Linked DNA regions of Homo sapiens. The protein of the gene in region 3 purifies or fractionates together with the protein of the main gene of each other region. This does not show direct contact. Each region holds a gene or a part of one and is shown on either strand. Other genes may lie near its edges. The genes, in order: KANSL2, SLC39A10, DCLRE1B and FNBP1L.

Region 1 (3,567 bases), on a different chromosome or scaffold from region 3:
AGAAAGTGAACATGCGGAACACTTTAAACTTTTATTAATCTACATTCTTAATGTTTTGATATGAAATCATCACTTACCAGTCAAGACAGCTTTAAAGTGTTCAATTAACATGTATCTTTCACATATACATATATACATGTATATATACGTATATATATATACATGTATATATATATATACGTATATATATATATATATATATATATTTTTTTTTTGAGATAAGGTCTCACTCTTGTCACCCAGGATGGAGTGCAGTGGTGCAATCAATCACAGCTCACTATAACCTTTGCTTCCTGGGCTCAAGCGATCCTCCCACGTCAGCCTGCCGAGTAGCTGGGACTACAGGTGTGCACCACCCCACTTGGTTAATTTTTGTATTTTTTGTAGAGATGGGATTTCACCATGTTGTCCAGGCTTGAACCCCTGGGTTTAAGCGATGCTCCCGCCTCAGCCTCACAAAGTGCTGGAATTAAACGCATAAGCTACTGCACCTGGCAATATATTTTAATTAAAGCACTAAAGATACCAACATCAAATAATTTTTTTTTTTGAGACAGTCTTGCTCTGTCACCCAGGCTGGAGTGCAGTGGCACAACCTTGGCTCACTGCAACCTCCGCTTCCCAGGTTCAAGTGATTCTCCTGTCTCAGCCTCCCAAGTAGCTGGCATTACAGGCACCTACCACCACGCCCAGCTAATTTTTATATTTTCAGTAGAGATGGGGTTTCTCCATGTTGGTCAGGCTGGTCTTAACTCCTGACCTCAGATCGATCTTCCAGCCTCGGCCTCCCAAAGTGGTGGGATTACAGGCATGAGCCACTGTGCCCAGCCAAAATTTGTAATTGTTTAAAAAATATAGGCCTATATTGGAGCTCATATGGACCCTCAAATAACTAGTCAAAATGGGCTATACCCTGTCCTCAGCTAATTTTCTTGACAATATTCTCAAAATTCAGTACCCTAGGTTAACCCTTAATTGCCAAAGATCTGGCACGGATCCATATCAACTTGATTAAGCTTTGCTGCCAATTATAAACTAAAAGAATATCTGGCCAGGCACGGTGGCTCACACCTGTAATCCTAGCACCTTGGGAGGCCAAGGCAGGCGAATCACCTGAGGTCAGGTGTTCAAGACCAGCCTGGCCAACATGGCGAAACCCCGTCTCTACTGAAAATACGAAAATCAACCAGGTATGGTGGTGGGCGCCTATAATCCCAGCTACTCGGGAGGCTGGGGCAGGAGAATTGCTTGAACCCGGGAGGCAGAGGTTGCAGTGAGCTGAGATCGTGCCACTGCATTCCAGCCTGGGTGACAGAGCAAGACTCCATCTCAAAAAAAGAAAAAAAAAAAAAAAGAACTTCTAAAAGTTTTGCTAGTGATTAATATATGGTAGACTGTTCTCTGGCTCTGATTTATGCAATCAAAATTAAGAGATGAGGCCAGGTGTGATAGCTCACGCCTGTAATCCCAGCACTTTGGGAGGCCGAGGCAGGCAGATTGCTTGAGCCTGGGAGTTCAAGACCAGCCTGGGCTGTAACATGATAAAACCCTGTCAATACAAAAAATACAAAAGTTAGCTGGGCACGGTGGTGTATACCTGTAGTCCCAGATACTCAGGAGACTGAGGTGAAAGGATCACTTCAGCCTGGGAGTGGGAGGCTGCAGTGAGCTGAGATGGCGCCACTGCACTCCAACCTGGGTGACAGAGCAAGACCATGTCTCAAAAATAAATAAATAAATAAATAAATAAGTGAATAACTTTGAATTTTAAAAATTTTGTTTCACTCACCGTCTGATCATTACATAAATACAAAGAACAAGCTATATACCTTAAGTTTCATACTGAGTAAAAATTTTATTGAAAAGGCAAAACACATAAATTATACTAATTTTAAGTCAAAAAATTATGCTTTATTACTTTTTCGTTTTTAAGACAGAGTCTTGCTCTGTTTCCCAGGCTGCACTGAAGTGGCACAATGTTGGCTCACTGCAACCTCCGCCTCCCGGGTTCAAGCAATTCTCGTGCCTCAGCCTCCACAGTAGTTGAGATTGCAGGCGTGTGCCACCACACCTGGCTAATTTTTTTATTTTTTGTATTTTTAGTAGAGATGGGGTTTCACCATGTTTCCCAGGCTGGTCTCAAACTCCTGAGTTCAGGCATTCCACCCGACTCGGCCTCCCAAAGTGCTAGGATTACAGGCGTGAGCCACTGTGGCCAGCCTCTGCTTTATTTTTAAAAACTAGCTGTTAAGGCACTGAAATACACAGAATATACAAAATTAACTTTAGGACTGAGAGCAAGTAATTTCTGCCAAAATTTCTTCATAAATATAAACAAAAGCCAATATTACCTGTGTATAAGAGGTACTTAACTATATTCTGAAGTAAAAGTGAAAAGAAATTAAGAAAAATCAAAACATGGTTAATAAAACCAGCAAAGGGCCAGGTGTGGTGCACAAGGCCAAGGTGGGTGGATCACTTGAGGTCAGGAGTTCGAGACCAGCCTGGCCAACATGGCAAAACAGCCTCTCTACTAAAAATACAAAAATTAGCCAGGTATGGTGGCAAGCACCTATAATCCCAGCTACTCGGGAGGCTGAGGCAGGAGAATCACTTGAACCTGGTAGGCAGAGATTACAGTGAGCCGAGATCGCACCACCGCGCTCCAGCCTGGGCGACAGAACGAGACTCTGTCTCCAAAAATAAAAAATTAAATAAAATAAACAAATTAAATAAATAAATAAAAATAATATATAATAAAATAAAATTAATAAAAAATAAATTTAAAAATAAATAAAATAAAATAAAACCAGCAAATTACAGAAATGACAAAAGCTAACAGACTATCAGAAAATGTGAAAAGGCTTTAAAAATATGTAACAGTTGGCTGGGCACGGTGGCTCAAGCCTGTAATTCTAGCACTTTGGGAGACCGAGGTGGGCATACTGCCTGAGCTCTGGAGTTTGAGACCAGCCTGGGCAACATGGTGAAACCCCATCTCTACTAAAATACAAAAAAAAGAAAGAAATTAGCCGGGCACAGCGGCGTGCGCCTGTAGTCCCAGCTACTAGGGAGGCTGAGGCAGAAGAATTGCTTGAACCCAGGAGGCAAAGGTTGCAGTGAGCTGAGATCGTGCCACTGCGCTCCAGCCTGGCAACAGAGTGAGAGTCCGTCTCAAAAATAAATACATAACGGTTTCACAAGGTGACTAAGTTACATCTTCAGAAAAATGGGTTATGCCTACATTAACCTGTCTGTAACCTAAAATACTGAGGCCTTAACCTAATATAGAGTTTGTTAAAATGAAATTCACTTTTTGAATACTGAAAATGAGAAAAATAAAAATTGTTTTAAAAAATTAATTTCACTGCACCCTGTCAGAAGAGAATTTAACCAATGGTCTGGAACTGAAATGTACCTATCTGAAGCCATTACTATTAGAAGTTATTAGAAATCATTTGGTGGGGGCAGTAAGCAACCTACTAAATGAATGCCGGCTGGTTCATGTAACAGATGGCTCATTTACTTAAAGATGAATGCGCCAGACTTTCAGAGCCGGACATTAAA
Region 2 (3,567 bases), on a different chromosome or scaffold from region 3:
CTTGACTCACTTCAGCCTCTGTCCCCTGGGTTCAAGCGATTCTCATGCCTCAAGCCTCCCAAGTAGCTGGGACTACAGGCATGGGCCACTACGCCTGGCTAATTTTTGTTTTTTTTTTTTTTTCGAGACAGAGTTTTGCTCTTGTTGCCCAGGATGGAGTACAATGGTGTGATCTCGGCTCACCTCAACCTCCGCCTCCCGGGTTCAAGTAATTCTCCTGCCTCAGCCTCCTGAGTAGCTGCGATTACAGGCTTGTGCCACCACGCCTGGCTAATTTTGTAGTTTTAGTAGAGACGGGGTTTCTCCATGTTGGTCAGGCTGGTCTCGAACTCCTGACCTCAGGTGATCTGCCTGCCTCGGCCTCCCAAAGTCCTGGGATTACAGGCATGAGCCACTGCGCCCGGCCATAATTTTTGTATTTTTAGTAGAGACAGGGTTTCACCATGTTGGCCAGGCTGGTTTTGAACTCCTGACCTCAAGTGATCTGCCTGCCTCGGCCTCCCAAAGTGCCGAGATTACAGGTGTGAGCCACTGCACCTGGCCTTAACTTTTTCTTTTTTACCAAGGTAATGGATGTAAACCATTTCTTTTTTATTTTAGTTGGTATTTATTGGTTTACCAATTTAGTTTCTCTCCACATGCAATACTACTTTGGTTTTCTTCTTTTATAAATTAAAAAACAGTAGCTTAAGATGTAAATACTCATTCACATGGAAAATATCTGAGGGAAATGGAGATGGCATTAATTTGAAAGAAAAAATGCTAATGCCACCTTTCGAATATGCAAGGGATTTCTTCATGTGTTTTCTAATTTAATTTTTCTGAAAACTCACCTGGCTATGAAATGTCTGTCATTTGACTGTGCGTAATTGTCTTGATTTGTAGTATTTGCTCATTTTGAATAGAACTTATCATATAAATTTCTTGAAAAATCAATAACTTCTTACATAAAGCAGTAAAAATATATTAGTGCATACTTGGTGCTAATTCCTTGGGGCTTGATTCTGTATGGTTTCATTTACCTTGCCAACTTCAGACACATAATCTTATCTCTTGTTCATGCCCATTATCCTTTATCCAGACCAAGTCATCACCGCCTTTGTGGTGTTTTTGCTTAGACAGTTTTCATAGTCTTTATATCTCTGGTTTTATTCTGTTGTAGTATATCATTGCCAGATATATCTGCTTAAATGTGATGTTCTTATGTAATTAAAGTCTTCCAGTAGCTTTCCTGACATATAAAATAGAGCTGGATTTTATATATTTTTTTCCCCCTGTAACAGGGTCTCCCTCTGTTGCCCAGGCTGGAGTGCAGTGGCTTGATCACGGCTTAGTGCAGCCTTGACCTCCTGGGTTCAAATGATCCTTCTACCTCAGCCTCCTGAGTAGCTGGGACTACAGGCGTGCACCACCATGCCCAGCTAATTTTTGTATTTTTGATAGATAGGGTGTTGTCATGTTGCCCAAGCTGGTCTTGAACTCCTGGGCTCAAGTGATCCACCTCCCTCAACCTCCTAAAGTGCTGGGATTACAGGTGTGAGCCACCACGCCCAGCTATGAGTCACACTTTCAATGACCTTCACTTCTTCTCTCTACCTAGCTTTTTAGTGTTACCTGCAGTACATCCTGTTACATGTTTTTCATTTCAACTAAATGCAATTCACCAAATGTGTAGTGTGGGTGCCTGAATCTGTTTCCTTGTTTATACCATTCTCCTACATGGCTGGCCCAAATACTTCTATTCCTAGTTTATCATGTTAAGAATCTTCAACTTTATTACTGTCTTTTACCTCATGCCTTGGATTACTGTTTCCTCTTAGTTTTATTGTTTGCTTTCTCGGGGTCCTTCACCCATTTTCTTGTTAGATGCCGTATTTCTTAAACTGTAGTTTTTTAATGCACAGATACGACGTCTTATGCTCTTCTCTAACTATCACATACTGCTGTTGGTCTATCACATACTGCTGTTAGCCTAACTCCACAAATCAAGGCTATCAGTTTTTATATATGAGTTAACATGTTGCCTCATATTTAATCTTTCACTTAAAAACTATTTTTAGTAATAGACTTGGATAATCACGCATACACCTCCATAATATACTAGAAAAACCTCCAACTTTCCTTCCTGTTCATCTACCCACTACCTGGTAAATGGAGTGTCAGGCTACTTCAAGTTTAAGTGTGGTTTTACTGAATTGCCATAACCTTGAAGGATTCACTCAGACACAGAATTGAAAACAAGTTGGAGATTAAGGATGGTTACCTTCTTACCACCCTTTTTCTGTCTGCAATTTCTCATTGAAGGAGTGACACACAAGGGCTGATAACCACATGTAGAACAAATGCATTACATACATTAATAGCTAGGGAAGCCCTTGATACCCAATGCAGAGCTCTGGTAAAAAACTGGAGCGGAGAACTCTGCTTGGACCAGGAACCCCTAGTGAGACATTCAGACCTCAGATGTCTACCTGTTTTATCCCACAAATCAGAGGCTGAGATGTTGCTACTGCTATGAGAAGATATGTCAAGCCAGAGTATACTGAATTTTGCTAGAGGGAAAGGAGTGGGCTTTTAGAAAATGTGCATTTTTCCTAATGTTAAATTGATGTAAACTATACCATACTGTAGCTGGATAGGCTACTAGGGAAGAAACAGTGTAAAGAAATGACCCAGCTTCCTCTTCTGGAGGTGACAGAAAGGGCTCTGGTCCTTGTATCTATCAACAAGTTAGGAAGTGGTCTAGGGACCATAAATAAAGGAAGTAAAAATATGATTGTGGAGCCTAGTTTTTGCCTTAAGGCACAGCAAAGGGCACTTTTTGTACAATAGGACCAGGTCAGTGTCCCTACTCTGATCAGATCATCTATTCTTACTCGGAGAGGAACAGGATGTGGAGAAAGGCATACAAGCTTCTTCCTCAGAACTCCCAAGCACAGGGAAAATCATTCCTCTATAGGTTGAGTTAGAAGCATGGGCAGATAGAGCCAGGGAGAAGTCCACTTCCCACTTTCTAGGTTAAGATGTTGACAAAGTAGTATAGTATGTCACATTTCAGGATAATTTATTTGATCTAAAACCTATTTTGCCCTGTTACATTTTTCATTATGAATTCTTAAAACAATTCTGAGATTTCCATACTGACCTCAGACCCTTGGAGGAAAAACATGTTTTCCAATTACATTGCAATACATGGAGACTGACCCTCAGTTGGTAATTCCAAGTTCTAGTGTTCCCTTTCTGAACAGATTGCTGTTTTTCCCGTGGTATATTCACTGAGACACAGAATTGAAAACAAGTTGTTTTAGAGATTAATGATGGTTACCTTCTTAGCACTTACCCCTTTTTCTCTCTGCAGTTTCTGCAGGTGTTTTTTGTAGTTGTGTTTAGGAATGTGATACGTAAAGACATATCCTTAGAACCATAGAATAACATATAGTTCAGGGAATTTGACTGTAAGAGACATGAAGAAATTGAAAGCATTTGAGGAAATAGCAAACTCACATCTCATTTTGTGTTTGCTCTCTGGTGTGGTAATGGGTTAAATTGCCTGAATTACTAAGTCAC
Region 3 (3,198 bases):
TGTGCCACTGCACTCCAGCCTGAGTGACAGAGCTAAAACCTGTCTCCAAAAAAAAGCCAAACAAACAAATGCAAACATGCTACCAACAACTAAATTCCTCAAAGTCTTTTGCTTCCCCTCCCCTATCTGAATGCATATAGAACCCACTTGAAGGAACAGGTGTGACACAGCATGTGCCAAGAGTAGACGGGCTCCCTTGTTGCTAGAAGATAACGCCAATATGGGAACCCCTGTACTGAGAACTACCTTATCTCTCCCAGCCACCTTCGGCCGCCTAGAAGTCAGACAGCTAGAGGATGCTAGAGGAAGTCCAGCTAAATTTGCCCACACAGTTTAGTAGCTATTTATTAAGTTAACACATGAGATGATTTTCCATGTGTTAACATGTACCGTTCTTGTGATCTCATTTAAACTAATGAGTCTTCAAGGTATTTTAATGCTATCCTGTCTGCAGAAAAGATGGTCAGGAAACCTTTCTGGAGGGCAATTCAGCACAATTGGTATCAAGAACTTAAAACTATAATCTAACTCCAGTAATTTACTTTAAGGAAATAAAAATGCAAAATATATGCATAAGGTTGTTCATTGTAATATATGTAATTAGAAAAACAGTACACAAAATGTTGAATATGGGAATGGCTTAGTTAAGGTATACTCACATGATAGGGTATTATACAAATATTAAAAATGGCATTTTTGAACAATATCTAATAAGTGAAATGCTTAAGATATCAAGAAATTAAAATGTAGGCTATAAAATTCTATACAATATTACCTCAACTTTGAAAAACATTTACATATTTAATACATCTACATGCATAGAAAAAAAAACTAAAAGATAGCAAATCAATTAATCTACGAGGAATTAAAATTTTTTGTTTTTTTGACTTTCAAAGTTTCTTATGTTATATACAGATTAATTTCTTTCAAGAACCAGAAGCTAAAGAGAACCAAAATCTGAAAGACCCATCCTGTGGCAGTCACTGAGCTAGGAGAATTTTACCAATTATTCAATCTCCATAGTAATCATGAGAGGTAGGAATCTCAAGTCCATCTTACAGATGAGGAACTAGGCTCCACAATTTAAGTAATTGCTCAGGGTGCCACAGATTCGAGCCTAGGCAGTCCCCATGTTTCCTGCTGCACCAAATGCCTCACCTGCTGTGGCTCCTAATAGGACGTTGGGAGACTTACAACAAAGGTCATTGACAAAACAGAGCTGTGTATAGCTTTCCCAAGAGCAATTGCTTTCTAAACTCTCTATTTCTCTCTCAAAGCAGAAAACTCTTTTAAATCCCCTGGACAAGAAATGGAATCTTCTTCACTGCTAGGGCTCGAGGTTCCATCCCAAAGCAGTTTTGATCCAGACGCCCAGCTCCACAAGTCTGTGCCCTCTCAGAGCCTACTCCCTCATAGCCGTGGTATCAGCTATCCTGCTTACTAGTTTGGCATTTTGTCAGGTTATGAGCAGAAGGACAGGGCAGACTGCACACCCCCACCCCTTCCCGCCAGCTGGCTCCTTGGTCTCTTCCTTGGATACTAAAACAAACAGGCTGTGTGCACTGGCTCCCTACATAATCCAAGGGGTGAGGGGAGCAACAAATATCCCAGCTATGTGAACAATTGGAGGAATATCTGACAACACATTTGATATTTTGTAACTGTTTCAGCCAAATAGGGTCTCCAGGCTGGGGAGTCCCTTCACACCCAAAGCCTTGTTGTTCAGCTGGGCTCTAGGTACTGCCTTGGAGAGAGCTGCCCAACCCCCCAGCTGGCTCTGTTCCACATGGATCCCAGTGATACTGGGATACTGCACATCCTCATGAAGGACATAGAGGTAGAATTTTCACTACTGTTCCAAGACCTCTTCATCGCTTCCTGTTCCCTCCCAGAGGCAGAGACAGGAAAATTATTTGGATGGTCACAGCAAGTCAGTGACGTTCAGGATTGAAGCATGCAGCGCCATAGTTCATAATTTTAAAAATAGAACTCCCTAGGGATTTTGATCTGAGAAGAGGGAGAAGGGGACATGGAGAATGGCTCATGACACCACAAAACAGCAACAGCAATAACCTGGTCCTTTTTGATTCAGACTCTTTACCTCTTTCTGTACCCACATAAGATGATTGCATGTTCACAAAAGTTTGAGAAATACTGGGTTAAACAAGGTTAAACAGATTAAGTTACTGTAGGACTTCAAAGAACTTTTAATTTGCTCACGCATACTCCAAAGATTTTATAAAAAAAGTATTTCTTAAACTTAGTTATAAAAAGAAGGATTCCATAGGCACGAGGACCCCAGTGAACAAGTTTTGGGAAGTGCTGCTCCACGGTGGGCCCATAAGAGTCTTGTAAAGATAGAAAAGTAGGCCCCAAAAACAAACTCTTTCCCACCAGCCATCAGTTACTATCTTCAAAACTGCAGTGTGGGCTCAATGTTGTCATTCTGTACTCTCCTGTCTTCAGCAGGGTTTATGGTATTTTTCCACTTGCTGGTCAAATCTCCTGGAAGAATACCCTGCCTGGAAAAAGTTCACTGGAGTCAGAAGATATTTGAGTGCTAGACCCCTGAATTCAGTAGCTAGAAGAGGGGTGCCCTTGCTGCTGTGGGACAGGGGAGAACCATGGCCCATCCAGGCACTCTGATTCCCTGTGGCTTCTGGACCTCCATCATCATCTCCCATGGGTACCAAGGGGGACCCTAAACCAATTTCCTCCCTGGTTTTTTGAGAAATAAACTCCTCATCTGTAGACCTTAAGTGCACTGAAAATCCCAGTGGGGCCGTCAACATAGTCACCCTCTTTTGAGACTCACAGAAAGGCACTGCCTTGTTCCATTCTTTGCTATAGAGATCTGGGAACAACTGCTTCTTGATCCGCAAAGGATGGTGGGAAGGCTGCTTTTCAAGGTCCGCAGGCCAGGGAGAAAGTTTCTCTTTCTTGGCCTTCTTTGAGTCTCTGTCAGCTTGAGATTGATCAGCACTTTCCTCAGGGGATTCAAACACAACACCTTGGGTTCTCGGCCTCTTTAGCCTCCTTTCTAACAGCCAGAGAAGGCTTGGTTTTCTAGAGGAAGAACTCATGTATTGCTGTACAGAGTCCGGAATCAGGGGCACGGAGATCCTGGGGCTCAGACTGTCCTGAAAGCCTCCACAGGGCCGCCGACTTACAATGGGCACCACCTGGCAAGGCTTCAGT
Region 4 (4,367 bases), about 20 Mb from region 3:
GCAACCAAAGTCTGACACGATCCACTCAGCACATCACTACAAAAGTCCCCCAAAGTCAGTATTAGAGCCGTTCTATTGAATTCCTTTTTTTCTCAAATTTAACATAAGACTTAAGAAGCATTAAAATAGCAATAAAAATTCCAATGATTGTTACAAGAAACAGACTCAGGTTTAAGTGCATGGCTACATATCATTTTTCTGTAACAACATATTCTCAATAATTAACTCTTTGGGACAGTAATGTGATTCTAAATATGAAATAATAGGAGAACTGGTTTCTAAATCCAAAATTTCGAGAGAATTTCCCAACCTCAAATTCCTCAATGGCAAGAGCACAGTACAGGTTGTTTGTATTACATTACAATCCATTAGAAGTATAATCCTTTTTCAAAACTGAGAACAGTAAAAAGAGGAAGCATACTCAAATTTTTCTAAGGTTTCTTCTAGTCCCAACAATAGTCCTCTACACCAAGTTCTGCTTATCTAAGTTTCAGACACCAAGTTGATATTAGTTCACTCTACATTACTTAGTTTCTAATAAATGTTTCCCTCAAATCCTCAAACTAAAAATCTTAAAATATGGAGATGTATTAAATGTTGAGAAAAATTAAAAATCTTTTTCAGAATTTCCAAAGGACACAAAGCAAATTTTAGTTAGAACAAAAATTCCCATCTCTTCTACAGTTTATCTTTTCAGATTGCTGAGAAACTCTTTAAATGCTGAAAGTAACCAAATTATAGGAGACAGTAGAGGAATGGAATCGTTTCCTTAGGTAGTACCATAAGTTTAAAAAAAAAACTTTTAAAATCACATTTTATTATTCACTAAAATGTTTTTCCTTAAAACTGTTATTCTTTAGTGTGATACAAAGTGAATTTTTTAAAAATCTTAAGAGTTAAATCTAAATAACATGCCTCCACTGTTTTCCTATGTTTACTTTTTAGAAGTATTCTACTTACATTTTAGTTTCCTTTGAAGCACAAGTCATTTAAGTAGGCAAAAGTTAAAATATTTTGTAATTATAAAAACGAATGAATGCACTCTGGTAGGCATGAAAAAAATAAAAAATTTAAAAATTTAAAATAAAACTATACCCATTTCCTTTCATTGATAATTCACTATAATCAATTATAGAATGCACAAAGTGTAAGGGAAAAAGGCCAATAATGCCTGAGAAACTAACCAATGTAAAAGAATTAAACTTTATGTAATTCATTTACCATGCAATCCTCCCCAATATAAGAACAATTAATGCTATCTAAGAAACGGAATGAAGGGGCTCCTAAGGTATTTTCTCTTGGGTGGTGTGTTTTCAGACTGGGTAAGCACTTGTACAGAATGTTGCACAAGAGATTCCTGGCTGGCTAAGTAAAGCATTCACTAGATGGACTCTAAAGTCTCACAGTTCTAAGATTCCCAATCTATGAGTAGACGTGAAAAATAAGAAAACATTTTGCCTTTCAATTAACCCATTGGCTTTCACTCCCACCCTAGCTGGGCACACACATACTCAAAAGTTATTTCTCCCCTTTCTCTGCAGTGATTTCACGAGATCCTCGCGAACAAAAGGCACGGAAAACAGGCACAGGTGGAATAAAAAGGGGAGTGGCTGAGGCCAGGCGGCTCTCGGGACAGCGCCCCCACGCCCCCAGTTCTCCCGGCCGCACCTGAGAAATCACTGCCCTCCGCACCTGAGAAATCACTGCCCTCCACACCTCGACCCTTCCGCGCCGGCGCCAGGAGCAAATTCTCCGACCTATTACCCTCCGCCCGTACCTTGGCCAGACACTGGGCATTGTCTGGAGCCTCCTGTGCCAAAGAAAGGCAAGGAGGAAAGGAAAGGAGAGAACGAAGGAGAAAGAACAAGTGAGAATAAAGAACGGAAAGGGAAGTAAAGCAACAGGGAGACCGTACGCTCCTTTTGGTAAAATTAGCTTCCTCATCGATCACTCGATTTAATTCAGCCCCCAAAACCAACCCACCAGCCCAAAGGCTGCAGCCGGGGGTGGCCAAACCGGAGTCCCTCGAAGCTGTGCCCGCCCGAAGCACTGAGGCAGGGAGAGAGAAATGTGCGTGTGGGCTGGGCCTGGCTGGCCCGAGGCCGGGCTCCGAACAAAGCCGCCTGGGTCCCCATACCTGGGGCGAGGGCTCTGGGCGGCGCCGCCCCAGACGGGCGACGCCCTAGCCCCGCGGACCTGGCCCGGGCGAGGAATCGCGGCCGGTCCCCTCCCCGCCCTCGAACAGCGCCCCTTGGGGACAATGGGCCCCCTCCCCCGCCTCCGGGAGGAGAGATACAAAGGAAGAGAGGAGCCGCCGGGCGCGAAGCCAGGCGTCGGGAAAAGTGAAGGTGGAGGAGGGAGAAGGAACAAGAGGGGATCACGGCGCACGCAGGAGCCCGCGGGCTGCTCCCCCGGCCGTCCCGGGCGCCGCCCGAGCTGCACCACGGCGGCAAAGGCGGGAGCACGGACTAGCGGCCCCCTAGACCCCCGGCCGAGAAGGGAAGAGGAGTCTGCACACAAAGACGAGCGGGACCCTCACCCTCCGCCAGCGCCGGACCGAGGACGGCGGAGCGCGCTTTCACCGCCGAGGGTCCGCGGCGCCCGCCCAACCCGCGCTTCTCAGGGGCCGGGGTCCGTGCGGGGCGCCCCTCTCCCCGACTCACCCACAGCTCCGTGCCCCAGCTCATGGCGGAACTTTCTGGCCGTCTGGCGGTGCCGCTGTCCTTCAGTCTGTCGGCTCCACAGTCTGTCCGACCTCTCACTCGCTGGCCGGCGGGCTAGCAGCTCAGCGGGTCTACCTCGAAAGGTGCCGCCACCGCCGGGCTCCCCAGTGAGTGAGAAAGACGCGACTGGAGAAGCCTCCGCCGCCGACGCGTCCCCGCCTCCCCGCGCTGGGCGGGAGGGGGCCGGGGCCGAGGGGAGGCGGAACGCGGCGCGGGGAGGGGGCGGGGCGCAGTGCATCCTGGGATCGGGGAGGACCTGGGCTAGCCTGGCCACCGCCGGCGGGGTCCCCAAGCGGGCACCTGGTCACCCTCGCTGGCCCCTCTCGCTGGTCGAGTCTCCTCCTGCAGGTACCCCGGAGCTTGGACTGCCCCCACTCCGCTGCCAGTCGGACCCCTGTTTCCAAGATAGAAAGGGAGAGAAGGGAAAAGACCCCCACCGCCGCTATTATCTCATTCCTCCTCTGCGCTGAGCCCCTTTACATGAGGCAATTTTAGTTACCTGCCTTTCCTGCCTCTTGTCTCCTCCACTCGGGAGAAACCTTGACAGGGAAGCGTCATCCAAATCCTAGAGTTTAGACTGAGGAGAGTTGTGTTTTATTTTTTTAAATCTTGATGCTTAAGGTGATCTCTCCTTTCAAGCCTGATGCTTTGGCATGACGATTCTTGGGAACCACCAAAATGTGCACAGGTTGAACAGCAAATGTGAAGGCAACATGTCCCCGATTCTGTCTTTAATTAAATATTTTAATTTTATAAATTCTGTCAGGAAATTATAAAAAGAGGCAGCTCTTCCAGTAATCATTTAGGTATGTTGCCAGCGCACGAGATGGAAGACGTGGACAAATGTGAGCCGAGCTGTCACCTGCGGAAGATGAGAAGGCAGCTTGCCCCATGTCTGGAATGGGCACCTCGTGGGTGAGGGTTGGATGGGAGCCAGATTTTTCTCTGGTAGTGTAAACAGCTTATTCGGAACTTCAGATCTCTTTCACCTCCCAGTATCGGAACCTTGGAGGCAGGTCCACTACTTCCTTTTTTCTCTATGGAGCTACTTCCTGGCCTATCTCCATGGAAAGGCTGTTAGCTAGTTTGGCTGGTGCTACTAGATATCAAGTACGCTGAGCAACTCCCTAACATATGCTTTAGTATTAATAGCTTGTCTCCTAAAGCAAGCAAGCGCACACACACACACTTCAAAACAGTCAACTAGTAGAGTACTCCTCAGTGCGTCATGACAGCTGGGTGTTTTAGGAAGCTCTCCCAACGGGTTCTTTGTCAGCATTGAAACTCCTCCCCTACCTGGCCTGGACAGGTGTTCCAACCTCTTCCGCTTAATCCGTATTCTTTTGCCTAGCTGCGCTCCCTCTTGGAGTTGAGGCCAACAGCCTGAGTTCGCCTGACAGTCCAGTTGCTAATCTTCCTAAATTCTCTGCTGTCCTTTTCTGAGGCCACTTTAAGCATACAAATGCCCTCTTCCAAGTGGGTTATAGCCAATTTTTAAATGCTTAACTTTGTACCATGCAGTGAAAAGCCTGTGAAGGATTGAACAACACTTTCTAACATTTTTCTACATTGCCTCTATTCCAAAATAATTTCTTCGTTTATTTATGTCACCTAACACTGTTAACCGCCTCTCCCATCACTTCC

Evidence for each region.
Region 1: the proteins of DCLRE1B (region 3) and KANSL2 purify together in Homo sapiens (affinity purification with mass spectrometry; one large-scale study listed by BioGRID and IntAct). This does not show direct contact.
Region 2: the proteins of DCLRE1B (region 3) and SLC39A10 purify together in Homo sapiens (affinity purification with mass spectrometry; one large-scale study listed by BioGRID and IntAct). This does not show direct contact.
Region 4: the proteins of DCLRE1B (region 3) and FNBP1L purify together in Homo sapiens (affinity purification with mass spectrometry; one large-scale study listed by BioGRID and IntAct). This does not show direct contact.

The regions. Positions count from the first base shown.
Region 1 is NC_000012.12:48,672,229-48,675,795, forward strand, and holds part of KANSL2 (KAT8 regulatory NSL complex subunit 2), read right to left. Parts: intron 1-3,567. UniProt on the Homo sapiens protein: Non-catalytic component of the NSL histone acetyltransferase complex, a multiprotein complex that mediates histone H4 acetylation at 'Lys-5'- and 'Lys-8' (H4K5ac and H4K8ac) at transcription start sites and promotes transcription initiation.
Region 2 is NC_000002.12:195,719,684-195,723,250, forward strand, and holds part of SLC39A10 (zinc transporter ZIP10 precursor), read left to right. Parts: intron 1-3,567. UniProt on the Homo sapiens protein: Zinc-influx transporter. When associated with SLC39A6, the heterodimer formed by SLC39A10 and SLC39A6 mediates cellular zinc uptake to trigger cells to undergo epithelial-to-mesenchymal transition (EMT).
Region 3 is NC_000001.11:113,911,456-113,914,653, reverse strand, and holds the end of DCLRE1B (5' exonuclease Apollo), read right to left. Parts: coding exon 2,463-3,198; 3' UTR 568-2,462; downstream 1-567.
Region 4 is NC_000001.11:93,446,602-93,450,968, reverse strand, and holds the start of FNBP1L (formin-binding protein 1-like), read right to left. Parts: upstream 2,852-4,367; 5' UTR 2,688-2,851; coding exon 2,664-2,687; intron 1-2,663. UniProt on the Homo sapiens protein: Required to coordinate membrane tubulation with reorganization of the actin cytoskeleton during endocytosis. May bind to lipids such as phosphatidylinositol 4,5-bisphosphate and phosphatidylserine and promote membrane invagination and the formation of tubules.